2 separate regions of the Homo sapiens genome follow, and region 1 is linked to region 2. Evidence: fine-mapped expression QTL. A gene starts in region 2. The other region holds a variant in brackets. All regions are shown on one strand. Distances are from middle to middle. Region 1 overlaps SLC2A11 (solute carrier family 2 member 11). Region 2 holds the start of SLC2A11 (solute carrier family 2 member 11).

Evidence for each region. PIP is the estimated chance that this variant, and not a neighbour inherited with it, causes the effect.
Region 1: its variant is fine-mapped to the expression of SLC2A11 in nasal epithelium (TOPMed, PIP above 0.99).

The regions. Positions count from the first base shown.
Region 1 is chr22:23,875,753-23,891,563 of GRCh38, reverse strand. It overlaps SLC2A11 (solute carrier family 2 member 11), which reads right to left. Exons shown (of 12, transcript NM_001024939.4): 5 at 14,393-14,522; 6 at 13,695-13,843; 7 at 8,918-9,105; 8 at 8,695-8,805; 9 at 7,691-7,792; 10 at 7,540-7,615; 11 at 7,135-7,262; 12 at 5,252-6,915. The coding sequence ends at 6,715. It also overlaps the pseudogene RN7SL268P. Among named protein-coding and RNA genes, the nearest start is that of MIF, 11 kb to the left of the region's middle. RefSeq lists an enhancer at 2,908-3,202. The variant G/A (reference allele first, on the strand shown) is at 9,083.
Region 2 is chr22:23,850,306-23,866,116 of GRCh38, reverse strand. SLC2A11 (solute carrier family 2 member 11) reads right to left here and starts at 8,242. Exons shown (of 12, transcript NM_001024939.4): 1 at 8,088-8,242; 2 at 3,915-4,013. The coding sequence starts at 8,117.

The sequences.
Region 1 (15,811 bases), 25 kb before region 2:
ACAGATGCAATTAGGATTATGCATCTGTGCATAATAGGGAGATTAGCATGGAGCATCTGGGTACACCCAATCTAATCACATGAACTCTTAAAAGCAGATAATTTTCTCCAGCTAGAGTGCCAGATTCCAAGCAAGAGAAACACTCGATGTCCATTACCGGCTTTGAAGATGAAGGGGACCAGAGACCTCATGGTACAACCACAAGGAACTGAATTCTGCTCACAACCAGATTGAACTTGGAAGTGGATTTTTCCCTTGTCCCTTCAGATACCTTGACTTTGGCCATGCGAGTCCTTACACAGAAGACCTAGTCATGTCACGCCGGACTACTGACCCACAGAAACTGTGAGATAATAAATGCGTGTTGTTTGAAGCTGCTAAAAATTTGTGTTGATTTATTATAAGAGCAAAAAAAAAATAATACACCTTGGGACCCATAGGGACACAATAATTATCCGCTAACCATGGACAAATGCGCTAGGAGGCATTGGCAGGCATGGCTGCTGACTCCCTCTTCCTCCTCATGGCAGCATCCCAGATCTGTTCGTTAGAAGGTTCACTGCCCCAGAGTTCCTGCCACCCAGGTGTGGCCACCTCATCTCCCACCCCATCCCAGCACATCCAGCTGGAGGCACAACTCACCTCAGCTTCCTCACCCCTAGGCCTCTGAGGAAGCATTTTCATGGTCTGATTCCAAAGACAGCGGTGTGTGTGTGTGTGTGTGTGTCCATGTGTGTGCGCGTGCACGTGTGTCCACATGAGTGCTCACATGCACTATGAGCCTATGAAGCTAGAGTAGCTGAGAAGTCACCATCTAGCCCTGGAGTGTGCACCCAGACAGGAGCCTGGGCTCCCCGGGCAGAGTCATCTCTCTCCAGGTGTTTGATTCTCTCTAATCTTCAATGATTCCCTGCTACCTGCAGAATGAACCAGAGAATGGGGGCAGAACACGACCCCTGAAGAGCGCTGGCTCAAGCTGAGCTCCACTGCTAATCCACAGGGTCACTCTGGACCCCTCGGGTGGCCTAAAGGCCTCCTCAATAAAATGGAGATCAAGGAGATCAGGAAGCACACAGACTCTAGACTACACTTCCCATGAGCACTCTGAATGATCAGCACCAGCGCGCCACGGACCTCAGGTACCAGGCGAGGTCCCAGACGCAGCGTGTGCAGTGATCAAGGTCTGGGGTCCATGGTCACCAGGTCTACTCCTGGCCATTCCAGTTAGCTGTGTGACCCTGGACAAGCCACCGGCTTTTACTCAGTCTCTCATATGTACAACAGGGGTAATAAAAGTACTAATTTCATGGGGTCCTTTCCAGGATTAAAGGAGCTAACACTTGGAAGATACTCAGAATGGTCCTGATACATAGAAAGCCCTCCATAGATGTTATCCCTGAACATTGTTGTCACTGGGAGACTGTTTTGCAAGGTAAGGACCACCGCCATCCTCACAACCCTGGGCACAGCCTGAGGACAAGGACTGAGGCGGAAGCCTCTGGATGTAGTGGACCCTAGGTGGATATGTGTAAACTGAAGGGAAAAATGATTCAGCTGAGGCACAGAGTGATCTGGGTCCCAACAAGAGGGAACCAGAGACTCAGAGGGTCCAAGAAAGGAGAGGATGAGAACAAATACAAGAGAATGGACAACAGCCCTTTGGAGGCTGTGCAAGCCCAGATCCTTGTGAGCGCCGCCTGGATCCCGGCAGCCAGGCAGCCAACTTGAGCCTGCCAGATGGGCGGGGCCCTGTCCCCTGGCCCTGGGAAGCTGGGACATGTAGGTCCTGGTAATTAGCAAATGAGGGAGGGATTCGGGCTAGGAGAGGGGCTTGACCACATGCTCTGGGAGGTGGGGAGAGGCCACACTGGGTCTGGGGTCTGGGGAGGTGGGCTGGAGCTGGGGAGCATGGCTGTGACTCCTCTCCAGCTACATGGGCTAGACATCAATGCTCACACCTGGAACGCAGTCTCAGCAGAGGCAGGTCAGCTCCCACCCTGGACCACCCCCTAGAAACCCAGTCTGGCTCTCTCACCCCTCTCTGCACTGCCCTTCCTTGTCTTCAAGGTCCTGTCCTGAGACCCTGTCTCCTCTCCCTAACTGAGGGGCTCCCTGCGTAACAAGGGACTTGCAACCCCCACCCCGCCCTCCCAGAGTGGCCAGAGCCAATTCCGGCTGGGTGGGTGGTGAGTGAGAGGGCAGGGCTCAGGCTGGGGACCGGGGCACCATGTGTGTCCGAGGCAGGCCGGGACCTGGGTGTCACCTGATGCCTGCTCTGCTCGTGGCACGTACCCCAGGATCTCAGGGGTGCTTGTCAATGGATTCTTACTCATGACTCCACGTTGGAGGTCTGCAGCCAGGGCGGCCAGGGAAGCCATTTGGAGCACAAAGGTAAGCTGGGGAGCAGGTCAACAGAGGCAGGATCAGGGTGGATGGACACAGAGGGGCAGAGTGACCACACACAGGGCTCCTGGGAGGGCTGCCCCTGCCTCCTGAAGACTCCACAGTGACTGGACACGGTAGCTTCATTCCCATCCTGCAACGCTGCTGCCTCCCAGTGGCTCCAGCTTTTTTTTTTTTTTTTTTCTTTTTTTGGTAGAAACAAGGCCTCGCTCTGTGGCCCAGGCTGGAGTGCACTGGTGCAATCATAGCTCACTGTAATCTCCAACTCTTGGGCTCCAGAGATCCTCCCACCTCAGCCTCCCAAGTAGCTGGGACTACAGGCACATGCCACCAAGGCTCTAGCTTTTAAAAGGCCCCCAGCTGAGCCTATCCTTAGGAAGCCAGCTCAGAGTCACCTTCTCCCTGAGACCTCTACTGACACCCTGACCCAGAGATTTCTCTCTCCCCAGAGAACCCACAGCCCCACCACTTCTCTTTAACAGTCACTGTTTCCTGACAAAAGCCAAATTCTTTCTTATACAACAATAGTCCACTGATTTTCTTTATTTAGGCACCAAAGTAAAATAATGAAGAAAAAATGGCTTTTTTTAAAGCAAATGGTACTGGTACGACCAGATAGCCATTTCAAAAAAAAAGAAAGAAAAGAAAAAAGGGCCAGTCATGGTGACTCATTCCTGTAATCCCAGCACTTTGGCAAACGAACGGCTTGAGTCCATGAGTTCAGGAACAGTCTGAACAACATGGCAAAAGCCTGTCTCTACAAAAAAACAAAGAAAAACAATAAAACAAAACAAAACAAAAATTAGCCAGGCTAGCCGGGCGCGGTGGCGGGCGCCTGCAGTCCCAGCTACTCGGGAGGCTGAGGCAAGAGAATGGCGTGAACCCGGGAGGCAGAGGTTGCAGTGAGCCGAGATAGTGCCACTGCAGTCCTGCCTGGGCGAAAGAGCAAGACTCCATCTCAAAAAAAAAAAAAAAAAAATTAGCCAGGCATGGTGGCACGCATCTGTAGTCCCAGCTACTTAGGAGGCTGAGGTGGGAGGATTGCTTGAGTCTGGAAGGTAGAGGTTGCAGTGAGCTGAGATCACGTCACTTGCACTCCAGTCTAGGCAACACACAGTGAGACCCTGTTCCCCCCACCCACCCAAAAAAAAGGAACCTCAGCCCCTCACACCATACCCAAAAATTAACTTGAAATTCATCATCAGCAACATAAGTGTAAAAGCTAAAACTATCCAACATTTGGAAGAAAATCTTTGCAACATTGGGATAGGCAAAGATATCTTATGGCACAAAAAGCATGAATCACAAAAACCAAAAACTGATAAATCAAACTTTACCAAAATAAAAATTTCTGTTCGGCCGGGCCAGGTGGCTCACGCCTGTAATCCCAGCACTTTGGGAGGCCGAGGCGAGCAGGTCACGAGGTCAGGAGATCAAGACCATCCTGGCCAACATGGTGAAACCCCGTCTCTACTAAAAATACAAAAAAATGAGCAGAGCATGGCAGCACGTGCCTGTAGTCCCAGCTACTCAGGAGGTTGAGGCAGGAGAATTGCTTAAACCCAGGAGGCAGGGCTGCAGTGAGCCGAGATCGCGCCACTGCACTCCAGCCTGGGTGACAGAGCGAGATTCCATCTCCAAAAAAAAAAAAAAAAAAAAAATTCTGCTCTTAGGTAGCATTAAGAAAATAAAAAAGGCAAGCTACGGACTGCAGGAAAATATTTACAATACTATATATTTAACAAAGTACTAGCTTCCAGAATGTATAAAAAATGCCCACATTTAAAAAATAATGACAACCAACCTGATAAAAATAGCAGATAAGGGCTGGGTGCGGTGGCTCATGCCTGTAATCCCAGCACTTTGGGAAGCCAAGGTGGGTGGATCACTTGATGTCAGGAGTTTGAAACTTGCCTGGCCAACATGGCAAAATCCCATCTCTACCAAAAATACAAAAATTAGCAGGGCATGGTGGCTCACGCCTGTGGTCCCACCTACTTGGGGGGCTGAGGTGGGAGGATCGCTTGAGTCCAGGAGGCAGAGGTTGCAATGAGCTGAGTTCATTCCACTGCCCTCCAGCCTGGGCGACAGAGAACCCTGTCTCAACAACAACAACAAAAAAAAGTAGACAAAATATTTGAACAAATTATTCATAAAAGAAAACCCACAAATGGCCATACTGAGCACATGAAAAGATGTCAAACATTATTAGTCATTAGGGAAATACCACAATTAAATGACAAGATACCACTACACACTCACTAGAATGGCTAAATTGAAGAGACTGACAATACCAAGTGCTGATGAGGATCTGGAGTATCCAGAACTCATACATTATTAATGAGAATGTGAAACAATATAATCAACCACTTTGGAAAACAATTTTTATACAGTTAAATATACATTTATTATTAAGCCCAGCAATTCATTTACCCAAAAAGCTAGACTGACTGTTTATGTCCTCCCCAGGTTCATACCTTGAAACCTAATCCCTCATATGATGGTACTTGGAGGTAGGGCCTTTGGGCCTCCTCGGAGGTGATTAGGTCATGAGGGCAGAGCCTGCATGAATGGGATTGGTGCCCTTATAAAAGAGACCCCAGAGAGCTCCCTTGCCCCTTCTGCCATGTCTAGGAGAACACAGCAAGAAGACCGCCATCTATGAATCAAGACATGGGCCCTCAACAGACACTGAATCCACTGGCACCTTGATCTTGGACTTCCCAGCCTCCAGAACCATGAAAAATAAATTTCTGTTGTTTATAAGCCACCCAGGCTGTGGTTCTTAGTTATAGCAGCCCGACGGACTAAGACACAAAAGAAATAAAAACATATGTTTAGACAATTATTATTGTAGGAACATTCACAGCAGTTTTATTCATGATGGCCAAGAATTAGAAACAGCCAAAATGTTCACCAACAGGTAGATGGATAAATAAATCATGGTCTAACCACAGAGGGGAATACTACTCAGCAATACAAAGGAGTCTCTCCTAATACGTGCAACAACATTCATGAATCCCAAAAACTTTATCTGGAGCCAAGCCAGACACAAATGTGTACATACAGTACGGAATGACTTCAGATTCTGAAAAAAGGCAAATCTGACCAATTGAGGCAGAAAGCAGGTCAGTGGTTCCCCAGGTCTGGGACTGGGGTGGGTTACTGATAGCAAATGGGCATGTGGGTGCCTTGGGGTAGGGTAAAGGTTCCATCTTGATCACGGTGGTGTTTCCCAAGTGTATACACTCACCAAAACTATACTTAGAACTCAAAACTCGCCAAATATATACTTAAAATGGATGCAGTTGGTTATGTATAAATTATACCTCAATAAAGTTGATTAAAAACATCAATTCCTCAGAAAATTCTTTTCTGACCACTCCCCTCTCAGACGAGGTCGGGCCTCCTGGTATGCATACCCATACCCACTACAACCTGTATTTATTTTTTTTGAAACATGGTCTCTTTCTGTTGTCCAGGCTGGAGTGCAGTGGCTCAATTAGGACTCACTGCAGCCTCGACCTCCCAGGCTCAAGTGATCCTCCCATTTCAGCCTCCTGAGTAGCTGGGACCACAGGCATGTACCACCACACCCAGCTAATTTTTTTTTTTTTTTTTTTTGGTAGAAACAGGATCTTACTATGTGGCCCAGGCTGGTCTCAAACTTCTGGTCTCAAAGCAATCTTCCCATCTTGGCCTCCCAAAGTGCTGGGATTACAGGCATCAGCCACCTCACCTGGCCAACCTGTATTTTTCTTTCACTGCATTTCCTGAGTCTGTAATTATTATTATTATGTTTTAAAGAGATGAAGTCTCCCTCTGTCACCCAGTCTGGCATGCAGTGGTGTGATTGTAGCTTACTGCTACCTTGAACTCTTGGACTCAAGTGATCCTGCTGCCTCAGCCTCCTGAGTAGCTAGAGCTGTTAGCACATACCACCATGCCCAGCTAATGTTTAAAATTTTTTGTAGAGATAGGGGGTCTCACTATGTTACCTAGGCTGGTTTCAAACTCTGGCCTCAATTGATCCTCCCACCTTGGCCTCCCAAAGTGCTGGGATTACAGTCATGAGCTGCCACAACCAGCCTGTAATTATGTTGTTACTGATTTTCTGTCAGTTAATTACCTTTAGCCTGGAATACCACGCTCACCATTGATTGCTAAGCACCTGGAGCCATGTCTGCACACAAAGGGTGCTCAATAAACACTCCTTAAATGAGGAATGCAGGAGGGAGTGAGGACCAGGGCCCTGGCAGGAAGCAGAGGACAGGACAGTAGCTGGCTTTGGCTCTGGCCACCCCTTTGGGACTAGAGTTCTGTTGACTGGATAACCTCCAGGCTCCTCCACGTGGGGCCCTGGGCCCGCCTGGGGAAGTTGAGTCTGTGTAATTCCTTGGAGATCTCTTGGAAGGTCTTGCCTTTGGTCTCAGGAAGGAACAGGCCAGTGTAGATGGCCCCACAGACACAGACACCAAGGAAAGGGACATAGAGGAAGTGGGACAAGGCCTCCTGCGGATTAAAAAAGACCCCAAGACCTGGTGTGTCTCCATCAACCCCTAAACAGAAGGCCCATGACAGGTCGTGAGGAGGCATTTGCCCCCCTCTTTGCTCCCCTAAGACCCCTCCCTTTCAGTCTCAGTCTCCCTGGATGGAAGCCTCCCCCTGGGGTTCTCAGGATGACAGGGACACAGCCTAAGGCAGGGCCCCCAGCGGGAGGGGCGGGCCTACCATGATAAAGGGAAATCCCAGGCCGACCAGGATGAGCATGATCCACATGAGCGCCCCGCAGACCATGCAGGCAGCAGGCCTGGCCATCTGGTCAAACAGCTCTGTGGCCAGGATCCCCGTCACTCCGGCTAGAAGGAGGGGCAGGGACAGGGGGCTGCTGGCCAGGGTTCCCTGCCTGCCTCTCCCCGACCCCAGCCCAGACATGGGAGTGGGAGCCCAGGCCCAGTCTGTATGGGGGGCCCCTCAGTGCTCTCCTCCTGCCATTCCCTCCCAGAAGCCCCGGCATGAGGTGGTCTCTGAGGGCCTGCAGGGGACATTGCATTCACACCCACCCACTGTGCACCCAGGCACCCATCACTCCTTCTATGTGATGATGGATGCCCAGAGCCCCTTGGGCCCACTCACCAGGGCCAATGCCAAAGCTGAGGATGAAGGCAAAGATGCAGGCCATGGCCAGGTAGAGTGTCCAGGGGAAGGAGCTCTGCCGTGGACGGGGCGGGGGTGAGGTGGAAGTCAGCCCGGCCTGGACCCCCCAGCCCTCATCCACCCCAGCTACCTGCAGGCACAGGGCCACAGTGAAGATGCTCCCCCAGCAGGTCATCAGGCTGTACCCACCGATGAGCAGCACGCGCCGACCCACCCTCTCGATTACCACACACTGCAAAGGCAGAAAGCACAGACCCACACACCCAGCCATGGTCCCTGAGGTCTGGGGCAGGCAATGGGAAGGGGTCTCCTGAGAAAGCTGGTGGTGGAGGTGAGGGTAGTTTATTGCTTCAGTGTGACTTTATTAATTTCCCAAAGGAACTTGGTCAATCAATCACCCAACTTCAGCCAGTTTCCGCATCTCAAAATGGTGCTGGAAGTGACCCGCAAACCGTAGATGCTCAATAGATGCTCTCTAACTCACTGCATTGATTGATTGATTGAGACAGGGTCTTACTGGTCTCACTGAGCTGAGACAGGGTCTCACTGGTCCAGCCCACGCTGGAGTGCAGTGGCACAATCTCGGTTTACTGCAGTCTCAACCTCCTAGGCTCAAGTGATCCTCCCACCTCAGCCTCGCCAGTAGCTAGCACTACAGGCGAAGACCACCACGCCTGGCTAATTTTTGTATTTTTTGTAGAGACGGGGTTTCACCATGTTGCCCAGGCTGGTCTCCAACTCCTGATCCCACCTCAGCACTATTGCCTGGGCTGGAGTGCAATGGCACCATCTCGGCTCACTGCAACCTCCACCTACTGGGTTCATGCGATTCTCCTGCCTCAGCCTCCCAAGTACCTGGGATTACAGGCGCCCGCCACCACGCCGGGATAATTTTTTGTATTTTTTAGTAGAGACGGGGGTTTCACTGTGTTGGCCAGGCTGGTCTCGAACTCCTGACCTTGTGATCCACCCACCTCGGCCTCCCAAAGTGCTGGGCTTACAGGCATGAGCCACCGCACCTGGCCCCTCACTGCATTTTAACACCATAAGCTGGAGTGTAAACTGGTTTAATGCAGAGGACCTGGGGGTCCCTCCCCACAGGGCTGGTGGAGGAAGGGCACCCTCCAGACTCACACTAACAACCGCCGTGAGCAGCTCGCAGCTCCCAGTCCCGATGATCGCGTACTGGATCTTCGCTTCCGGCACTCCTGCCTTCCGGAACACGGAGGAGGCGTAGGCGTACACCTGGGAGAGGGTGGCTTTCAGGCCTGGGCTCCCTTCCACCTCCCATGGCTCCCAGCGGCCTGCAACACCAAGCCCCCGGGGCCCAGGGTGTGCGGCGGGGCAGGGGTCTCACCGAGTCATTCCCGCAGAGCTCCATGGCACTGCCCAGAACCACGAGGCTTGTCACCTGTCTCCTCAGGGCCCGATGCTGGAACAGCTCCCATGGGCGCCGGGCACGGCAGCCCTGGCAGGCAGCGCGCTCCTCCTCCAGCTCCTCCAGCTCCCCTGCCAAGTCCCC[G/A]GAGCCCCGGAGCCGCCGTAGTGCTGAGCCAGGGAGGAGGGTACTGAGCTCCCCGTCCCCAAGCCCCTCTTTGGTCCCCCTACAGGGACGCCCCCCTCCATCCCACCATTCCTTTCCTTCTTGGCTCACTCTCTGTCTCTGAGTCTGTCTGTGTGTGTGTGTGTCTCTCTCTCTGCCTCTGTCTCTCTCAATCTCTCTGTCTCTGTGTGTGTCTCTGTGTGTGTGTGTGTTTCTCTCTCTGCCTCTCAATCTCTCTGTCTCTGTGTCTGTGTGTGTGTGTGTGTTTCTCTCTCTCTCTGCCTCTGTCTCTCTCAATCTCTCTGTCTCTGTGTCTGTGTGTGTGTGTTTCTCTCTCTCTCTGCCTGTCTTTCTCAATCTCTCTGTCTCTGTGTGTGTCTCTGTGTGTGTGTGTGTTTCTCTCTCTGCCTCTCAATCTCTCTGTCTCTGTGTCTGTGTGTGTGTTTCTCTCTCTCTCTGCCTCTGTCTCTCTCAATCTCTCTGTCTCTGTGTGTGTGTGTGTGTGTGTGTTTCTCTCTCTCTCTGCCTCTGTCTCTCTCAATCTCTCTGTCTCTGTGTCTGTGTGTGTGTGTGTTTCTCTCTCTCTGCCTCTGTCTCTCTCAATCTCTCTGTCTCTGTGTCTGTGTGTGTGTGTGTTTCTCTCTCTCTCTGCCTCTGTCTCTCTCAATCTCTCTGTCTCTGTGTCTGTCTGTGTGTGTGTGTGTTTCTCTCTCTCTGCCTCTGTCTCTCTCAATCTCTCTGTCTCTGTTTGCCTCCCTGGTCAGATGGAGATGATCTTCCTTGCCCTGACATTTCTCAGGGCTGTTGCGGTGTTGCCACCATGGATGAAAAAAGGCTTTAGAAAGAAACGCAGGGTTCTGCGGACATATCAGACAGGACATGACTATTGCAGCACATTATCAAACCCAATTCTTCACCCCTCCCTGCACCCACACTGCTTGCTGTGTGATTTTGCAGTTCCTCCCACTAAAGGGGCAAGTACTGCCTACATCCCTGCTCCTGGCTCTGGGCTCGGCCAATAGGATGAGGCTGCAGTGAGGGCGTACCATGTTCCAGCCTAAGCCTTAAGAGGCCTTGCTCACTTCTACTTGCTCTTCTGCCTTCATGAGAACATTCCAGGCTAGCCAGGAGGATGACAAGACATGGACAGCCAAAGGGGCCCAGCTAAGCCACCCTCACTGGGACTATTCTAGATCAGCCAGCCAATGCCCAGCTGAGCTGCAGTTGCAGGAATGACCAAGATCAGCAGAGCCATCAGCCAGAACCATCCTAGATCAGCCCAGCCCAGAGGACTTAGAGGCTTAGGCTAAATAATTGCTTTTTTTGTTTCTTTACCACCGAGATGTTATGATCATCTATTAGTCAGCAATAGAAAGCTGATCAATAAATTGGCACCAGGAGTTGGTGCTACCGTAACAAAGACCTGTGAAATATGGTATCAGTTCCAAGACGAGGCAGAGGACGGCGATGAGGCTGGAGAAATGAAAAGCTATGTTATATAGTGCAGTAACACGGAAGAAAGAAAATGGGCTCAGTGAACTTATGGACTTGAGCAAAGAAAACTCCAAATGTTGAAAGCATGAACTGGTTGCTGTTAGATGCATATTCTAAGCTTGCTGTAAGACATGAAGAATTAGCTCAGAAAATAACTGGCCAGTTTGCAAGCAGAATTCAGAGGCAACAAAATTTAATTAAACGTAGCATATTTCAGAAACACTGGGTTAGTTGAAAACAACAACAAAAAATGTTTTCTCGCCTCTATCCTCTCCAGCTAGCAAAAGAATCCCAAATTAAGTAACAGCCTGTGAGCAAAGATCAAATCCAGAGCACTGCCAGGAAGCCATGGACTCATAGTAAAGATCAAATCAAGGGTATAGCTTAAAGCAGTGCCTCACAGACCCTCACAACTAGAAAAGGGGGCATTTAGGAGGCTTGAGGGCGTTGATTCACGGTAGCCTGACATACCCTAAATACCAGCAATTAGGCCTTGGGAGAGAAGCCTGTCTCAAAAATAATTGTGAGCGTGGTTTGTTGACACATGAAAAAACCTCGAATACATAGAAAATTCACATCATTTTTGAGAAAGTTGTATTGGCAAAAGCTCTGCCAGTTTGGACAAAAAAAAGACCAGGACAATTTGAAATATAAAGACTTCTGTGCCCCAACTTTGTTTTCTTTTCTTTTCTTTTTTTTTTTTTTTTTTTTGAGATGGAGTCTCACTCTGTCACCAGGCTGGAGTGCAGTGTGCACTGGCACAATCTTGGCTCACTGCAACCTCCGCCTCTCGGGTTCAAGCAATTCTCCTGCCACTGCAACCTCCGCCTCTCGGGTTCAAGCAATTCTCCTGCCTCAGCCTCCCTAGTAGCTGGGACTACAGGTACGTGCCACCATACCCAGCTAATTTTTGTATTGTTAGTAGAGATGGGGTTTCACCATGTTGGCCAGGCTGGTCTTGATGTCTTGACCTCGTGATCTGCCCGCCTCAGCCTCCCTGGGATTACAGGCGTGAGCTGGCGCCCAGCCTGCCCCAACTCTCTATAGGCAGGAAGGAGGCTGAGAAATTTGCTCAACCATCAAAAGCAGCACATTGTGCAACGCCCTCTTCAGAAGGAATCAAGGAAGGTGAAAGAAAAGGAAAAACATCTCAGAGGGTAGACCCAAGAAGCATGGAGAGCCACGCATAGTGGTGTGTGCCTAGAGTCCCAGCTACTCAGGAGGCTGAGACAGGAGGATCGCCTGGGCCCAGGAGCTCTGGGTTGTAGTACGCTAGGCAGATCAGGTGTCTGCACTAAGTTCAGCATCAATATAGTGACATCCCAGGAGCAGGGACCACCAGGCTGCCTAAGGAGGAATGCACTGGCCCAGGTTGGAAATGGGACAGTTCAAAACTCCCATGCTAGCCAGATACAATGGCTCATGCCTATAATCCACGCACTTTGGGAGGCCAAGGGGGGAGGATCATTTGATCTCAGGAGTTTGAGACCTGCCCAGGCAAAGAGGTGAAACTCCATCTTTACAAAAAATACAATAATAAAAAAAAATTAGCCAAGCGTGGTGGCACGGGCCAGTAGTCCCAGCTACTCAGGAGGCTGAGGTGGGAGAATTGATTGGGCCTGGGAGGTGGAGGTTGCAGTGAGCTGAGATCACACCACTCCAGCCTGGGCGACAGAGTGAGACCCTGTCCCAAACAAAACCAAAAAAACAAGAACAAAAAAGAAGAAAACTTCCGTGCTGATCAACAATGGCGTCATGCCTATGAACAGCCACAGCACTCCAGCCTGGACAAGCGAGAACCTGTCTCTAAAAGATAAAAAAAATAAAAAAAATAAAAGAACCATGGCCTGGGGTGCCCTTCATAGGGGGTAGGGGACAGAGCTGGAACTTGAACAAAGAATACTCCCTACCCCCAAGGCAGGGGACATGGCCATATTTTCCTAGGGGCGCTTCAGAATTGTTATAGATTAGTGACTGCACTGTGCCTGCCTTGCTTCCTCGTTTTTGAAATGAGAGCATTAATTTTGGTTACCTCATCTTACTTTTTACCATTGCATGCTGAGTGTGGGAAGGGAAGAAGACTCATCTTTCTAGATCCTAGGTTTCTGGATCAAGAAAAGGCCCATATAGACTTAATGTGGCGTAAGATCTGGGACTTCAAGCCCGATGCCATGATTGGATGAGACTTTGGGGGATCCTGGGATGGGACTGAACACATTTTGCACAGAGGAGAGACATAAGTAATAATTGCGGCCATGGTGACAGAGAAGAGTACACTAATGGGCCCCGGTCTTCACCCCTCCTTAAATCCACAGCCCTTGCGATGGGAGAGGATATGCCATCAATTTTCCCATCCCTTGACTTGGGATTTGGCAGTATGACTGACTCGCTTTGGCCAATGGAATGTTAATGGCACGAGGGAACCAAAGGTTTGGAAAGCGCTTATGCAACTGGATTTGCTTTCTTGTTTCTCTGCCATCACCATGCTATTCCTAGGCTAACTCGTTGGTACCAAAAGTGAGAGGACAGAAAGTGCAGCAAAGCTGAATGGCTCCAGTCCAGACCAGCCTAGACCGGCCAACCAGCAGCTGAACCTCACCACTGCCCCCCTCCCCCGCCCCACACTGTGAACTAGCCCAGCTGAGATCAGCAGAGCTGTGCAGCCAGCCAGGCAAGTACATGAATAAAAGAAGCAGTAAATAATTGTTGCTTTAAAGCAGAAATGTTGCGATTGTTCCTTAGGCATTCTTACTGTAGCCAAAGTTAACTGATATAAGATGACCATCACCCAGTTGGCACTGGGTAGGTGAGGTCTTGCACAGGTGTTTCACCGTGTGTGTGCGCGTGTGTTTCTCCGCACCGCTCTGGAGTTCTTGAGTAACAGTGGCTAGGTCTGATCCATTCTGCTGCCTGGCAGTTAGGACAACCACTTGATAGAGTTCTGATTGAAGGCAGGTATAGGCAGATCATGAAATTGAGGCACAAAGAGAGGGATAGCTTTTCCTTGATAAATGAAACCTATGAAATGGGGACCCGTATACTCTGGGGAGATGCATCCCTTGGTCAAGGGCAGTCTGGGAGCCCAAGGACAGAGACTCACCTGCCAGGCAGGCCTCGGTGTCTCCACAGTCAATGAGGAGGTAGCGCGGGCTTTCAGGGAGCAGAGGCAGGGAGGCGAGCTGGAGCGCCCCGGGCACCAGGCAGCTGGCCAGCAGCAGGGGCCAGGCCTGAGGGCCACCTAGGAGCTCCCTAAGGAGGCAGAGGAGAGGCCAGGCCAGATGCCTCTTTGCCAGAGTCCTACCACCCTGCTCTCCTGCCCACCTACACACCTCCCTGCAGGGAGTCTGCAATTGCCCCGTGCCTCTTCCTATCCAAGTCTGGGTCTGAACATCAAGATCCCTCCCACCCAGGTTGGGACCAAGAGAGGACAGGGCCACTGCCCCACCTCATCCCTAGCAACTCCTCTTCCCAAGGGTCCAGGCTCTGCCTTCTCCTCTTTTTTCTGGAATGACTGGAACACGTTTGTCTTTGAAAGCCCAAATCTTCACCCTCTCCTCTGTGAAGACCTGTTCTTTGCTCCCTGACCTGGAGAGGATGGGAAAAGGTGATTCACATTGCAGTGTGTTGACTGATACCCATTTCGTGAATTGGCAGCAGAGATGTGGATAGAGGATTCGATGCCTTCATGCAAAGCAATAATGCTTTAATCTACTAGTGGGTAGGGGAGACATTTAGGTGAAGAAACGCTTTTACTGGTATCTCCGAAATACTCAATGCATGTGGGGGAGGGGTGCTTACCTGAGTCCGACCACCTGTCCCATCACGATCCCCAGAGCCGTAAAGATGGCTGAGCTCATGGCCACAGCTCCTCGGAGCTCCTTAGGGGCGCTCTCCCCCAGGTACATGGGCTGGATGTTCATGCTCACACCTGGACGTGTGCACAGCAGAGGCACGTCAGCCACCAGCTGGGACCCCCACTCCACGACACCCAGCCTGTCTCCCCTGCCCCACTCAGCACTGTCCAGCCACTCAACTGGATCCTGGCACTGAGGGCTGATCCCTCACCCCCCACACTCAGGGGTTCTGCTTCACCTGATGAAGGGCCAACAGGATCCCAACTCTACTCTTCAGAACTTCTGAGGGAGGGCTTTCTCAGATCCGCTCCCATCCTGGTCCCTGGCCACAGTACCACATGTTCATGGGCTCTTCCTAGGTCCCATCACTGGGACCCGAGTGTGAAGGACTCTGACGGGGCTGTGCGGGGGGGTGGGAGGAGGAAGGTAGGACCACATCCTGGATGCCTACCAGCTGTCCCAGCACTCATGTCAATTCCTTCATTGATCACTACAGCTGCTCTCACCTCACCCTGGCTCCCCCAGGGAAGACCCTGGCACCTACACTGCCCTCAGGAAAACAGAGAGCTGGAGAGCACCCCAGCGCCCTCCCAGAGGGTGACAAATGGCAAAAGCTAAGAGGCCACTGTGTTGTGGTGTCACGCCCCTGGGAATGCAGTATGCCCTCCCTGACCTAGGGGTTCTCCCATCAAGGTCCTGCCCCTCTATCTACGAGTTGGGCAAAGATAACTGGAAGGAAGGCAGCTATGCTGATTGCCAAGGAGTCTCGGAGGTGCCCCTGCTCTTCCTACAAACATTTAGCTGGGGATTCCTTCTCTGATGGGTACTTGGGACATGAAGACAAAGTCTGACCTGGTTCCTTTCCCCTGGATCGTGGGCTACTCTTAGTAACTCACTTCTAATGAGCAGAATAATGGTGTATGACCTCTGGAATTAGGACATAAAAAGCACCTGGACTTCTCCTTGTGCATGCCCTCTCTCTGTCTCCCTGTCTCCCTCTCTCTCCCTCCCCTCCTCACCCCCTCAGATCACTCTGGAAGAAGCCAGCTGCCATGTTGTGAAGATCCTCAAGCAGCTCTGTGGAGAGCCCCCCAAAGTGGGCAGCTGAGACCTCCTGCCAATGGCACGTGAGGGAGCATCTTGGAAGTGGATCCTCCAGCCCCAGCCAACCCTTCTGATGTCTGCAGCCCTGACAGCTTGAGCACAGCCCCGTCAGAGACCCCAAGCCAGAGCCACCTACCTAAGACATTCCTGGGTTCCTGGCCCACAGAAACTGTGAGATTATAAATGTTGATTATTTTAAGTCACTTAATTTTGGGGTTATTTGTTTCACACAAATAGATAACTAATATAGATAGCATCA
Region 2 (15,811 bases):
GCTCACTGTAGCCTCGAACTCCTGGGCTCGAGCCATCCTCCAACCTCAGCCTCACAGATCCCTACAACTACAGGCCCATGCCATTGTGCCCTGTTGCATTTTTTTTACTTTTTTGTAGATACTGGGTCTCACTGTGTTGCTTAGGCTGGTCTCAAACTCCGGGGCTCAAGCAATCCTCCCACCTCGGCCTCTCAAAGTGTTCGGATTAGAAGCATGGACCACTGCACCCGGCCTTCTGAGCTCTTTTTCAACTAGGTCTCAACTTTTGGACTTCTGTGTTCATCTCTGCCTTGTTCAATTTTAGCAAGTATCGTGCTAAGTTGGTTTAGCTAGAATCCTCATCCTCCACATCTGATCACTCTCAAAATCTAATCGGCCTCCTTATCCTCTGCCATCCTCCATGATGTCTAGTTACCCTGGCCTGCCCTCAACAAGAATCCTGTTAGGACAATTTAACCAGAATCCCCCACAAATGCCTGATGATCCTCTTAGTCATTGTGCACCCGCTGACCCCACTCTGCTCCTTGGCTATCAGTTCTCACTTGCCCATTGCTGTATTTGAAGTTGAGTCCAACCTTTCTGCCTCAGGGCAGGACCCCATTGCCACGGTCCCTACAACTAGTGCTTGCCACCTCTTGAATAAAGTCTTCATTACTGTGCTTTGACAAGTGTCATTGAATAGTTTTTTGTTTTTGTTTTTGAGATGGAGTTTTGCTCTTGTTGCCCAGGCTGGAGTGCAATGATGCAATCTTGGCTCACTGCAACCTCTGCTTCCCAGGTTCAAGCAATTCTCCTGCCTCAGCCTCCCAAGTAGCTGCGATTATAGGCATGCGCCACCATGCTTGGTTAATTTTGTATTTTTAGTAGAGACGGGGTTTCTCCATGTTGGTCACGCTGGTCTTGAACTCCCGACCTCAGGGGATCCACCTGCCTCAGACTCCCAAAGTGCTGGGATTACAGGCGTGAGCCACTGCGCCCAGTTTTGTTTTCTGGTTTTTTTTTTTTTTTTTTTGAGAGGGAGTCTCCCTGTCGCCCAGGCTGGAGCACAGTGGCGAGATCTCAGCTCACTGCAACTTCCGCTTCCTGGGTTCAAGCAATTTTCCTGCCTCAGCCTCTGGAGGAGCTGGGATCACGGCACATGCCACCATGCCCAGCTAATATTTCTATTTTTAGTGGAGACAGGGTTTAATCATGTTGGCCAGGCTGGTCTCAAACTCCTGACCTCAAATGATCCGCCTGCCTCAGCCTCTCAAAGTGCTGGGATTACAGGCATGAGCCACCACGCCCAGCCTGAATAACTTTTTCTTTAACAATTAGAACTTAACACCATTCAGCAGGGTAGGGGAAGCCTCTGAGCCTAGGAAAGTCTCCTTCGTAGGGGCTGGTGATGGCTGTGGGAGGTAAGGTCTGAGAGTGCCCTGCCCGGCCTGGGATGGACCCCTCTCTAGTCTGAGTGTGCACTGAAGTGGGTGCTCAAATGCTTGATGAATTAATGAATAAATAAACCAATGCATCACCCCTGTAATCCCAGCACTTTGGGAGTCCAAGGCAGGCGGATCGCCTGAGGTCAGGAGTTTGAGACCAGCCTGGCTAACATGGTGAAACCCCATTTCTACTACAAATACAAAAAATTAGCCAGGCGTGGTGGTGGGCGCCTGTAATCCCAGCTACTCGGGAGGCTGAGGCAGAATCGCTTGAACCCAGGAGGTGGAGGTTGCAGTGAGCCAAGATCACGCCATCGCACTCCAGCTTGGGCAACAAGAGCAAAACTCTGTCTCAGAAAATAAATAAATAAAAAATAAACCAACGCAGCCAGCTCAGATCTCCCTTTCTAAACTCTCATCCTTTCTTTAAGAGGCTGGGCTGCTATCATTCTTTCTATCCCCACCTCTATCTTCTGCTAGCAAATATTACTTTGGAGGAAGTTCTCTCGATGGTCAACTACAGCCCTTGGTTCCCCATAAAGGTGATCACCTGGCCCAGATCTGGCCAATCTGAGCATCCCAGCCTCCTGACCACATTACTGGTCTGGGAGTGGACATGTAATCCAAACCAGCCCCTCAGGCTCTTCCCTGCCTTTCTACATGAGCTAACCTGGAAGACTTTTGTTGGTGGGGTGAGTTCTCAGCTGGCAGGAAGTGAATCTGGTGACAGCAGCTCCCCATCTGGGTATGAAAACAAGGCCAAGCTGGGCACGGTGGCTCATGCCTGTAATCCTAGAACTTCAAGAGGCCGAGGTGGGCGGACCACTTCAGCTCAGGAGTTTGAGACCAGCCTGGGCAACATGATGAGACCCCATCTCTACTAAAAAATACAAATAAAATAGCTGGGCTTTGTTGTACATGCCTGTGGTCCCAATTATTTGGGAGGCTGAGGTAGGAGGATCGCTTGAGCGCCTGAGCTCGGGACGGGGCGGAGGTTGCAGTGAACCGAAATTGCACCACTGCACTCCAGCCTGGGTGAGAGAGCAAGACTCTGTCCCAAAAAAAAAAAAAAAAAAAAAAAAAACCAGAGAGAGAGAAAAAACAGGGGCAGGACAGCCACAGTTCTGTCCTGGGGCCTGGTTCCTGCAGCTCTCCCTCAGTGCTGTGTGAAGCCCCACATCCCATCATTCCCAGTTACATGATTAGGTACTTGCCCTTCTTACTTAAGCAAGTTAGAGGTGGGCTTCTATCACTGGGGCTGAAAGACCTATCCTTTCCACAGACACTCACAGAACATTGGCTCGGGCCAGGCTACCATCAAGGGCCAGAGATTCAAAGATGACTCAGATGCTGAGAGCAAACCAGCAGGAGAGAGGAGATGGACACAAAACAGCCCTCACACAGCCTAAGAGAGGACAGCCTGCACCAAGGGCTGGAGAGGCAAAAAGGTTTCAAGAAGGTGGTGGTATCTGGGGTGGGCTTCTACAGGTGGAAGAGAGAGGGCCCCTCCGTGGAAGGAGGCTTAGAGGAAGGGCTGTGTCATAGGTATTTGAGGAACTATACTTAACTTGCTTTGGTATCAGGGTTGGGGGAGCGAAGGTGTGAGACAGTGAAACCGAGGGGTTCATTTGGTCAGGTCTGCCTGCCCTGCTTGCTTTTTAAAATTTCTTCTTCCTTTTTCCATGAAGCTGAGGCCGTGATAGCTCAAGGCTTCACCGCTGAACACGGAAACTTAATCTCCACTGGCTACTTTATAAATAACATTGATGAGACCGGGCACGGTGTCTCATGCCTATAATCCCAGTACTTTGGGAGGCTGAGGCAGGCGGATCACATGAGGTTGGGAGTTTGAGACCAGCCTGACCAACAGGGAGAAACCCCGTCTCTACTAAAAATACAAAATTAGCTGGGCATGGTGGCACATGCCTGCAATCCCAGCTACTCGGGAGGCTGAGGCAGGAGAATCGCTTGAACCTGGTAGGCGGAGGTTGTGGTGAGCCAAGATCATGCCATTGCACTCCAGCCTGGGCAACAAGAGCGAAACTCCATCTCGAAAAAAAAAAAAAATTTCTGAGCAGGGGAGTGACTTGAAGAGATCAAGGTGGGGAGAGGCTGAAGGCAAGGAGGCCAGTGAGGAGGCTGGGCCAGAACTGGGAATGTGGTGGAAACATGGGGAGAAGTGGCTGGATTCCAGAGGTAGTTAGGAAGGACTTAGTGTCCAAGAGATGAAGAGAAGAGTCAAGGCTGACCCCCCATCACTAGGTGGAAGATGGAGTCATCTGCTGAGATTAGGGACTCAGGAGGACATGCAGGTTTGGGGAAGATGTATGCTCAGTTTGAACCTGCAGGAACCTGTGGGCCAACCCAATGGAGACAAACTTGTGGCAGAAAGTGCCACCTAGTGGATGCCTGGCTGAAGCCCCTCAGTGGGCAGCTGTTAGCCAGTACCCACTCAGACAGGGACAGTCTCCACCCAGAGAGGATACATACCAAGGTCGGGGCATTGATGATAGAGAGGTTATAGCCAAACTGAAAAGTCCCACCAATGCCGGCAGCGCAGATGGTCAGGAGCAGGATCCTGCCCTGAATCTGAGGAGAGAGGAGAGAACACAGAGTGACCAACAACAGCCTCCACCCCCTCCCTGGACCAGAGCTGCCAATCACAGCATTGCAATTTATTTGAATCAGGCAGTGATGTCTCCACTTTGCAGATGAGGAAAGTGAGGCACAGAGAGGAGTTACCTGGGTCACATGGCTGGCAGGTAGCAGAGGAACCCAAGCCTCCTGTTCTGAGTCCAGGACCCCACTTTACCCTCACCCCACCCATAGCCCCAACATTTCCCTGAGCTGGAGAGCGGTTCCCATCCCTCCTTGTTGGGCTGCCCCTGAGCACGTCTGCTGTGTTTGGGGAAGACAGTCCCCTGAGCTGGGGCCCCAGTAGAGTAAGGCTCTGCCTCCAGCAGGACAGGAGCCTCTGACTTGCCCCAGGAAAACCTTCTCCAACAGAGTGGCCAGGCTCCAGGAATCTGGGCTGAGCCACCTCTCTTACCTCCCACCAGCATGTTCTGCAATGAGGCTAAGAGAAGATGCCACATGGACCTGCAGGTGCAAGGACTTGGGGACATATGAGTAGTAGAGAGGCAGCATAAATGGCCCAGGTGCCTGGTCCCTATCCCAGCTCTCCCCTTCCTTTCTCATCCTAAGTGACTTCCTTACCTGGACCTGCAGATAATGAAGCCTACTTCTAGGCTGGGTACCCATGAGTCATGCACACTTGGTACACAAAAGGACAGTGAAACACCCTTAGAGATGGAGGGAGAATTCCCCAAGGCATCCCTGATGCCTCATCCTTTGTAGTTGGGATAGTTGGGATTTTCTTTTTTTTTTTTTTTTTTTTTTTTTGAGACTGAGTCTTGGCCTGGCGCAGTGGCTCACACCTGTAATCCCAGCACTTTGGGAGGCCGAGGCGGGTGGATCACAATGTCAGAAGTTTAAGACCAACCTGGCCAAGATGGTGAAACCCCATCTCTACTAAAAACACAAAAATTGGCCGGGCGCAGTGGCTCATGCCTGTAATCCCAGCACTTTGGGAGGCCGAGGCGGGCGGATCACGAGGTCAGGAGATTGAGACCATCCTGGCTAACACGGTGAAATCCCGCCTCTACTAAAAATACAAAAAATTAGCCAGGCGTGGTGGCGGGCACCTGTAGACCCAGCTACTGGGGAGGCTGAGGCAGGAGAATGGTGTGAACCCGGGAGGCGGAGCTAGCAGTGAGCCGAGATAGCGCCACTGCACTCCAGCCTGGGCGACAGAGCGAGACTCCGTCTCAAAAAAAAAAAAAAATTAGCTGGGCGTGTTGGCAGGCGTCTGTAATCCCAGCTACTCGGGAGGCTGAGGCAGAGAACTGCTTGAACCCAGGAGGTGGAGGTTGAGTGAGACTCCGTCTCAAAAAAAAAAAAGAGACGGAGTTTTGCTCTGCCGCCCAGGCTGGAGTGCAATGGCGCAATCTTGGCTCACTGCAATCTCCGCCTCCCAGTTCAAGCGATTCTCCTGCCTCAGCCTCCCGAGTAGCTGGGATTGCAGGCATGCACCACCACACCCAGCTAATTTTTGTATTTTTAGTAGAGACTCCTGACCTCAAGTGATCTGCCCACCTCAGCCTCCAAATTGCTGAGATTACAGACGTGAGCCACCGCACCCGACCTGTAGTTGAGGTCGTCTTAGGGATTCACAGAAGTATTTATCTTTCTCCTTTGGTGATTTTCTGTTTTGTTTTTTGAGACAAGGTCTCATTTTGTCACCCAGGCTGGAGTGCAGTGTCGCAATCTTGATTCACTGCAGCCTCAACCTCCTGGGCTCAAGCGATCCTCCCACCTCAGCCCCCCAAGTAGCTGGGACTACAGGCACACACCATCATGCTGGGCTAATTTTTTTGTAGAGATGGGATTTCACCATATTGCCCAGGCTGGTTTCAAACTCCTGAGCTCAAGCGATACACTCGCCTTGGCCTCCCAAAGTGGTAGGATTACAGGCGTGAGCCACCATACCCAGCCCACTCTTTTGTGATTTTTAATTACAAAATGACACGTTTGTTAAGATTTTTGAAAATTCAGTATATACTGAAAGTTCTCCACTCCTCCAAAGGCACAACAATTAACTCCTTCCCTCAGGTATTTTCCTAGATATTTGCAAAGTAGTTGACTTTACAAAAATTGAATCGTTGATATCTTCCCCCAAAAAATACTGCCTTTCTTGTTCTGGCAAATTGTTCTGTAGAATTAAATGTATTATTTTTGAAAACTTTGATACAATTTTCATGACAGAAGGATGTTTGGCTAAGGTTTTCTGAAGTTTCCAGAACCTACGGACTATTTATTCATTTATTAGTCAAATACTGAGTGTTGGCCGGATGTCGTGGCCCACACCTGCAATCCCTGCACTTTGGGAGGCCGAGGTGGGCAGACCACTTGAGGTCAGGAGTTCGAGACCAGCCTGGCCAACATGGTAAAACCCTGTCTCTACTAAAAATACAAAAATTAGCCGGGCTTGGTGGTGGGCACCTGTAATCCCAGCTACTCAGAAGGCTGAGGCAGAATTGCTTGAATCCGGGAGGGAGGCGGAGGTTGCAGTAAGCCCAGATCGCGCCACTGCCCTCCTGCCTGGGCAACAGAGTGAGACTCCATCTCAAAAAAAAAAAAATGCTGAATGTTTATCTCAGCCAGGAAGTGTGCTGGGGGGCAAGATACAGCTGGGAAAGAGACAGCTGTGCTTTCACCATTCAGTGAGATACTGCACTGGAGGCTGGGGGAGCAGAGGAAGTGGCTCTGGAGGGCAGAATCCTGCTGAAGGCCTTGCCATAGGTCTGGAGACAGGTTGGTGACAGGGGCCCTGGCTGCCCATAGTTCCAATAAGGCCTAAGTAACTTTCTCTAAGGCTGGAAGCCTTAGGAAGAAGCCAGGTGAGAAACCTGGCATCTGGTCCCATTGAGGCCAAATTACAGCTCCACGGGGGCCGCATGGAAGTGAGAGCTCCCTTAAGACAGCAGATGTGAAGGAAGCAGCGAACACAGTGCTTGATGGCAGCTGAGCTCATGTAGCAGGAGATATTGACAGGTCTCTAAGACTACAGGAAATCGTTGAATTCAATGAGATCATGCATGGAGATTGCCTATACCGTGCCTGGTCATGGTAAGCATTCAGACATTAGCTACGATAGGGACCATTAATTCAGCAAACAAAGATTTATTGCCTCCCTATTATGGTCAATAATCCTACTGTTCTAGGTGTTGGGATACAGCAGTGAACAACAGACAAAATCCATGAGCTGTCAGAGCTTTCCTTCCAGCAGAGAAAGACAAGCAATCGCAAAATGAACAAGCAAAATATATAGTACATCAGCTGGTGCTACAGAGACTTAAAGCAGTGAAGGGGCGTAGGAAGTGTTTGGACCAGGTGGTGCTATTTTATTTTATTTTATTTTATTTTTATTTTTTAGAGACAAGGTCTCGCTACGTCGCCCACGCTGGAGTGCAGTGGTGAGATCCTATTAGATCCCTGCAGCTTCGAACTCCTGGGCGATCCTCCCACCTTAGTTGGTGCTATTTTAAATAAGGCTGTCAAGGAATACAAGTGCAAATCAAGACAAAGGAGGTGAGGGAATGTGCCATGCAAATACCTAAAGAAATCAGTCCAGATTGGGAAGGAACCCCTAGAAGCGGTGGGCAGTGCAGTGCGGGCGCTCTCCTCTGGCTGCGCCCTTTCCCTCTGTGAGGCAGGACGTCAGGTCAGAGCTGAGGGAGCATGAGGAGGAAAGAGGCGGGGGTGGGAAACAGTCTCGGGAGGGGGCGAGCAGTCAGGATTGCAGCGCTCGGAGGGCTTACTGCCTCTGAGGTCAGGGCTGATCGGCAGAGGATTTAGCATCTCTGGGGGCTGGGATGCCAGGGTCCAGCAACCTTGCTCTGGCCCACAGGCCGACCCTGGGCGTAAACACCTGCCTATGCACATCTGAGCCTAGCACCTAACGCCACTGTACATACAAGCACGATATTTTTGAACATTTGACGACTTAGTTAAGCCTCCCAGGTGGCTGCACCTGCGCAGTTCACTCAGGTCCGCAATCCCTCATCTGAAACGCCTGGTCTGGGCAAGTATGAGAATTCATACCATTCTAGATCGCAGGAGGGCGTGGAGCATTCGAAAGAGGGGCCTGAGCGGAGGTCTTGCTGTCCCAGGGAGACCCCGGCTGCCATTAGCAAGCGGTGAGCCGGCAGCCTGTGCGCGGAGGGAAGGGCAGCGCGCAGCGCCCAGTGGTGAAAGAGGCGCTAGCGCACGCGCAGTGAGCGTTTGAGAGGAGCAAACCCGTCGAGACGAAGCTGTAGCGCAAGCGCAGTGGGTATTGAGAGCGGCCGCACCAGCTGAGGGTTCGCGCAACGCTAAACGATGGCCGGGACTAAGGCCTGAGACTCAAGCTCAGGCGCAGTGAAGCGCAGAGCCGCTAGAGTGTCGCGGAGGGCGCCTGAGGCGCATGCGCGGACTCAGCGTTTTTAAGAAGGGCTGGGGGTGCTGGGGAGTTCGCCCCAGCGTGTTGGGGGGGAGTCGCCGCCGCGGGGGGGGGGTTTGGGGTCACCGCCGCGGGGTTTGTCGCCGCCGCTGGGAGCTCACCTGCGTCCGAGGCCGTAAGGACGGCTCCAGTTCATCCTCCATCCGCCTCTGCCGCAGCACTGAGGCTGAAAAGCCGCTCACTCCTTACTCGGCTAAGCCCCAAGCTCATCTCTGCAGGCCGGAAGGGAGCTCTGGTCCAAGGTCATCTCGGCCAAGCCCCTGCATTCGCCCTCGCAAGTGCCAGCAAGCGACTCTGGTCGCCGCGCTCCCAAGTCCTCCCCCGAAATTCCGGCTCTGGCCCCTCGTCCCCCTCCTTTGCTACAGTCTCTGGACTAAATGTCTGCGGGTCTCTGTCTCTCGCTGGTCTGACCTCAGCCGCAACCCTGCGCGATTCCCTGCGCCGGTCGCCACTGCCGGCCGCCAGAACCTCGGAGGCCACTGCCCCTGGGCGTTCTCCGGAGGGCCAAGCCCTTGGTTGTGCACATCTATGCACGCCCCACCTACACCCCCCCCCCCCCACACACACACACTTTGGTTCAGGTATCCCCGACCTTTCCCCAGAGGACGGGAAAATTAGGAAAGACCGAAAGATAGACCCACCAGTCTTCGGAGCGCTCTCATCTGTGCGTCCTGGGCAGAGCGAGAGACTTGGCGGAATGCGGGTAGGAGAACCGGTCTCGGGTTGCCGCCAGGGGATCCATTGCGTGAGAGGCAGGTCCGACTTATGCTGGGGGCACTTGGAGTTGAGGAACCACAGAGTCCACTGAACCGGATTAATCTTTTATCCCTCAGGGCTTCTCAGGCCCTGCATGGAGGAATCCAGGAGCTGGACAAAGACCAACTGAAACTAGACTTGCCAAAGATGCTATTTGTGGTCACAGAAACATAGAGCTGGACATGACCTTAAGAAGTCACCTGAGCAGACACTGTGATGGGCACTGTAGTAGCTCTATTGCTCAGACTTGGTTTTTGTTTGACTTTTGCTGCTCTGAACTTTAATTCCTAAAAACACTGCATTTTTAAGGAAAAACACAAAATATTAGCAGTTATAATAAATAGGTATTTTATTGCATGCTTTTCGTGCATCTATTAAGATGATCATATGGGTATTCTCCTTTAATCTGTTAATGAGATCAGTTACATCAATAAACTTTCTAATGGTAAACCATTCTTGAATTCTTGGGGTAGACGCAACTTGGTCATAATATTATTGTTATTAATACATTGTTAGTTTCAACTGCTGATATTTTATTTTGATAGGTTAATTTTTTTCTTTTTTTTTTTTAATTTATTTATTTTTTTTTTATTGATCATTCTTGGGTGTTTCTCGCAGAGGGGGATTTGGCAGGGTCATAGGACAATAGTGGAGGGAAGGTCAGCAGATAAACAAGTGAACAAAGGTCTCTGGTTTTCCTAGGCAGAGGACCCTGCGGCCTTGGCCTTCCGCAGTGTTTGTGTCCCTGGGTACTTAAGATTAGGGAGTGGTGATGACTCTTAACGAGCATGCTGCCTTCAAGCATCTGTTTAACAAAGCACATCTTGCACCGCCCTTAATCCATTTAACCCTGAGTGGACACAGCACATGTTTCAGAGAGCACAGGGTTGGGGATAAGGTCACAGATCAACAGGATCCCAAGGCAGAAGAATTTTTCTTAGTACAGAACAAAATGAAAAGTCTCCCATGTCTACTTCTATCCACAGAGACCCGGCAACCATCCGATTTCTCAATTTTTTCCCCACCCTTCCCGCCTTTCTATTCCACAAAACCGCCATTGTCATCATGGCCCATCCCCAATGAGCCGCTGGGCACACCTCCCAGACGGGGTCGTGGCCGGGCAGAGGGGCTCCTCACTTCCCAGTAGGGGCGGCCGGGCAGAAGCGCCCCTCACCTCCCGGATGGGGCGGCTGGCCGGGCGGGGGGCTGACCCCCCCACCACCCTCCCGGACGGGGCGGCTGGCCAGGCAGAGGGGCTCCTCACTTCCCAGTAGGGACGGCCGGGCAGAGGCGCCCCTCACCTCCTGGATAGGGCGGCTGGCTGGGCGGGGGGCTGTCCCCCCCACCTCCCTCCCGGACGGGGCGGCTGGCCGGGCAGAGGGGTCCTCACTTCCCAGTAGGGGCGGCCGGGCAGAGGCGCCCCTCACCTCCCGGACGGGGCGGCCGGCCGGAAGGGGGGCTGACCCCCCCCACCTCCCTCCCGGACGGGGCGGCTGGCCGACCCCCCCCCCCCCACCCCGCCTCCCTCCCGGACGGGGCGGCTGGCCGGGCAGAGGGGCTCCTCACTTTCCAGTAGGGGCGGCCGGGCAGAGGCGCCCCTCACCTCCCGGACGGGGCGACTGGCCAGGCGGGGGGCTGATCCCCCCACCTCCCTCCCGGACGGGGCGGCTGGCCAGGCGGGGGGCTGACCCCCCCCACCTCCCTCCCGGACGGGGCGGCTGGCCGGGCAGGGGGCTGACCCCCCCTCCCCCCTCCCGGACGGGGCGGCTGGCCGGGCAGGGGGCTGACCCCCCCACCTCCCTCCCGGATGGGGCGGCTGGCCAGGTGGGGGGATGACCCCCCCACCTCCCTCCCGGGCGGGGCGGCTGGCCGGGCAGAGGGGCTCCTCACTTCCCAGTAGGGGCGGCCGGGCAGAGGCGCCCCTCACCTCCCGGATGGGGCGGCTGGCCAGGCGGGGGGCTGATCCCCCCACCTCCCTCCCAGACGGGGCGGCTGGCCGGGCGGGGGGCTGACCCCCCACCTCCCTCCCGGACTGGGCGGCTGGCCGGGCGGGGGGCTGACCCCCCCACCTCCCTCCTGGACGGGGCGTCTGGCCGGGCAGAGGGGCTCCTCACTTCCCAGTAGGGGCGGCCGGGCAGAGGAGCCCCTCACCTCCAGGACGGGGCGGCTGGCCGGGCGGGGGGCTGACCCCCCCCACCTCCCTCCCGGACGGGGTGGCTGCTGGGCGGAGACGCTCCTCACTTCCCAGACGGGGTGGTTGCCGGACGGAGGGGCTCCTCACTTCTCAGACGGGGCGGTTGCCAGGCAGAGGGTTTCCTCACTTCTCAGACGGAGCAGCCGGGCAGAGACGCTCCCCACCTCCCAGACAGGGCTGCGGCCCAGCAGAGGCGCTCCTCACATCCCAGACAGGGCGGCGGGGCAGAGGTGCTCCCCACATCTCAGACGATGGGCGGCCGGGCAGAGACGCTCCTCACTTCCTAGATGGGATGGCGGCGGGGAAGAGGCGCTCCTCGCTTCCCAGATGGGATGGCGGCCGGGCAGAGACGCTCCTCACTTTCCAGACTGGGCAGCCAGGCAGAGGGGCTCCTCACATCCCAGACGATGGGTGGCCAAGCAGAGACGCTCCTCACTTCCCATACGGGGTGGCGGCCGGGCAGAGGCTGCAATCTCGGCTCTCCGGGAGGCCAAGGCAGGCGGCTGGGAGGTGGTTGCAGCGAGCCGAGATCACGCCACTGCACTCCAGCCTGGGCACCATTGAGCACTGAGTGAACGAGACTCCATCTGCAATCCCGGCACCTCGGGAGGCCGAGGCTGGCGGATCACTCGCGGCTAGGAGCTGGAGACCAGCCCGGCCAACACAGCGAAACCCCGTCTCCACCAAAAAAAAAACGAAAACCAGTCAGGCGTGGCGGTGCGCGCCTGCAATCGCAGGCACTCGGCAGGCTGAGGCAGGAGAATCAGGCAGGGAGGTTGCAGTGAGCCGAGATGGCAGCAGTACCGTCCAGCCTTGGCTCGGCATCAGAGGGAGACCGTGGAGGGAGAGGGAGAGGGAGAGGGAGAGGGAGGGGGAGGGGGAGGGAGAGGGAGAGGGAGAGGGAGAGGGAGAGGGAGAGCAGGTTAATTTTTTTTCAAAACAACCATTGCCTTTTCCCCCTTAAGAAATAAGTGGGAAGTGGCCGGGTGCGGTGGCTCACGCCTGTAATCCCAGCACTTTGGGAGGCCGAGGCAGGCAGATCACGAGGTCAGGAGATCGAGACCATCCTGGCTAACACGGTGAAACCCTGTCTCTATTAAAAATACAAAAAATTAGCCGGGCGTGGCGGCACGCTCCTGTAGTCCCAGCTACTCGGGAGGCTGAGGCGAGAGAATGGCGTGAACCCGGGAGGCGGAGCTTGCAGTGAGCCAAGGTCGTGCCACTGCACTCCCGTCTGGGCGACAGAGAGACTCCGTCTCAAAAAATAATAATAATAAATAAGTGGGAAGTGACGGGCTAATAAATGGCGCTAGGACAGTTGATGATATGGGGAAAAAGTGTGGACCTCTGTCTCACTTCATATACAAAAGTCATTCCAGGTACACACAAACCTAATGCAAAAACCTAACTTCAAACATTTTAGGCTGGACGCAGTAGCTCCCACCTGTAATCCCAGCACTTTGGGAGACTGAGGCAGGAGGATCACTTGAGCGCATAAGTTCAAGACCAGCCTGGGCAACATGGGCAGACCCCCATCTCTATAAAAAAAAATGTAAAGGCCGGGCGAGGTGGCTAATGCCTGTAATCCGAGCACTTTGGGAGGCCAAGGCAGGTGGATCACCTGAGGTCAGGAGTTCCAGACCAGCCTGGCCAACATGGCGAAACCCCGTCTCTACTAAAAATACAAAAATTAGCTGGGTGTGGTGGCGGGCACCTGTAATCCCAGCTACTCAGGAGGCTGAGGCAGGAGAGTCACCTGAACCCAGGAGACAGAGGTTGCAGTGAGCCAAGATTGCGCCACTGTACTCCAGCCTAGATGACAGAGTGAAACTCCATCTCAAAAAATAAAAATAAAAAGGAAATATATAATACTTTTATAACCCCGGGTTAAACAAGGATAAACCACGCAGATTTCTTATGAGGATTTAACCTTATTAAAATTAAAAATCTGTGTGTTAAAAGACACCATTAATGGGCCAGGCACAGTGGTTTACGCCTGTAATCCAAGTACCTTGGGAGGCCACGGTGGGTGGATTGCTTGAGCCCAGGAGTTTGAGAACAGCCCGGGCAGCATGGCAAAACCCCGTCTCTACAAAAATTACAAAAAATTAGCCGGGCATGATGGCTTGAGCCTGTGGTCCCAGCTACCCAGGAGACTGAGGCTCAGGGAGGATTACCTGAGCCAGGGAAGTTGAGGCTGCAGTAATCGGTGATCACAGCACTGCACTCCAACTGGGGCAACAGAGTAAGACCCTGTCTCAAATAAACAAACAAAAGACGCCATGAAAAGGTGAAACCTGGCCAGGTGTGGTGGCTCCAGCCTGCGATCCTAGCACTTTGGGAGGCCGAAGTGGGAGGATCACTTGAGTTCAAGAGTTCGAGACCAGCCCTGACAACATAGTGAGACCACATCTCGATTTTTTAAATAAAAAAATACGCATTTTTTAAAAAGTTGAAACCTAAAGCTACCAAGTAGAAGAAGGTAACTACAACATATGACCAACACAGTATTAGTATTCAGAATGTATATAGAATACCCACATACCAATAAGGAAAAGAAAATGGGCAAACAGGCTTGACACGGTGGCTCATGCCTATAATCTCAGCACTTGGGAGGCCAAGGCGGGGCAGATCGCTTGATCTCAGGAGTTCGAGACCAGCCTGGGAAACATGGTAAAACCCCGTCTCTACCAAAAATACAAAAAATTAAACCCCATCTCTACCAAAAAATACAAAAAATTAGCTTGGCATGGTGGTTTGGCCTGTAGTCCCAGCTACTCAGGAGGCTGAGGCATGAGGATCACTTGAGCCCAGGAGGCAGAACTTGCAGTGAGCCGAGATCGTGCCACTACACTCCAACCTGGGCGACAGAGTGAAACTCCGTCTCAAAAAAAAAAAAGATATGAACAAGGAATTTACAGAAGAGGAAACTGAAATGACCAAAAAACCTAATTAAAAGATAGCTACATTAGTAATCAGGAAATGCAAATTAAATCCACATCAGCATATTGGTTCCCACTCAACAGACTAACAGCTTAATTCTGGCAATACCAAGTGGTGGTGTTGATCAGCTGGAACACCCACGTACTATTGATGAAAATATCAGTTGGAACTAGGTGTGGTGGCTCATGCCTGTAATCCCACCACTTTAGGAGGCCAAAATAGGAGGATCATTTGAGGCTGAAGTTTCAAACCAGCCTAGGCAATGTGGTGAGACCCTGTCTCTATAATTTATTTTTTTTAATTAGCTGGGCACAGTGGCACACCACACAGCTGTGGTCCCAGTTACTTAGGAGGTTGAGGTGGGAAAAAAAGCTTGAGCCCAGGAGGTCAAGGCTGCAGTGAGCCATGTTCACACCACTGCACTCCAGCCTGAGTGACAGACTAAGACCCTATCTCAAAAAAAGGAAGGAAGGAATGAAGGAAGGAAGGAAGGAAAAATGTAAATCAGTGCAATGACTCTGGAGAGCAATTTGGGCAGATGAAGGAAGTTGAAGTTCACATACCTCTCCCACCCAGCAATTCCACTCCTGGGTTTACCTTGGAGAAACTCTTAATCCCATGCTCAGGAACTGTTCACAAATGCAGCATCTTTTGTACCATAGGAAAATTGGAAACTATCCAAATGTCAATCATGCAAAAAAAGGAGATATAAGCTGTAGAATACCATAGAATACCATGCATCAGTGAAAATCAGTGGACTAGACTAGAGGAACGGTATCAACATGTGTGAATCACAACGCTGCATGAACAAAGTTGCAGAAAGATGCCTACACTATTATGCCTGTATATTGTTTGGAAATATACAAAACCGTACCTAATGTGTGTAGGAATATATATGTCTACATAGTAAAAGCCTGGGGGCGAGCCTGGGGATAAGTCCCAAATTTAGAACTGGGTTTAACCTTGAATCCAAGACCCTGCCAGACTGGATCCTGACCTGGCCACCATTAACAATACCTGGCTGCCCCTTGATTCTCCTTGAAATGCCTCTTGGATGCCCTAAAGCCACCCCCATCTCGTTGGAGACAGGTCCCCATGTGTGGGCTCCCCAGACATTAATTATTATCCTTTGGCCAGGAAGCTCTAGGTTTCGCCTCAGCAAACATTGACTGGGAGTTTAACCTTGGGCATGTGAAAGTCATATCTGTATTTGTAGCAGCCTGGTGCTCACATCCGTCCTGTGCAGTGCTAGGTGCAACCACCCATATGTGGATGTCAGCCTCATTTACGAGGGGAGTCCCTGAGGCTCTGTGAGGCCAAGCCGGTGCCCGCACCAGCCCTACAGCCCGGCTGGCAGAGCTGGTCTTCCTCACATTGCCAAGGGAGGAGCGCAGCTCAAACTAAAAACAATCAATACAGGCCGGGCGCGGTGGC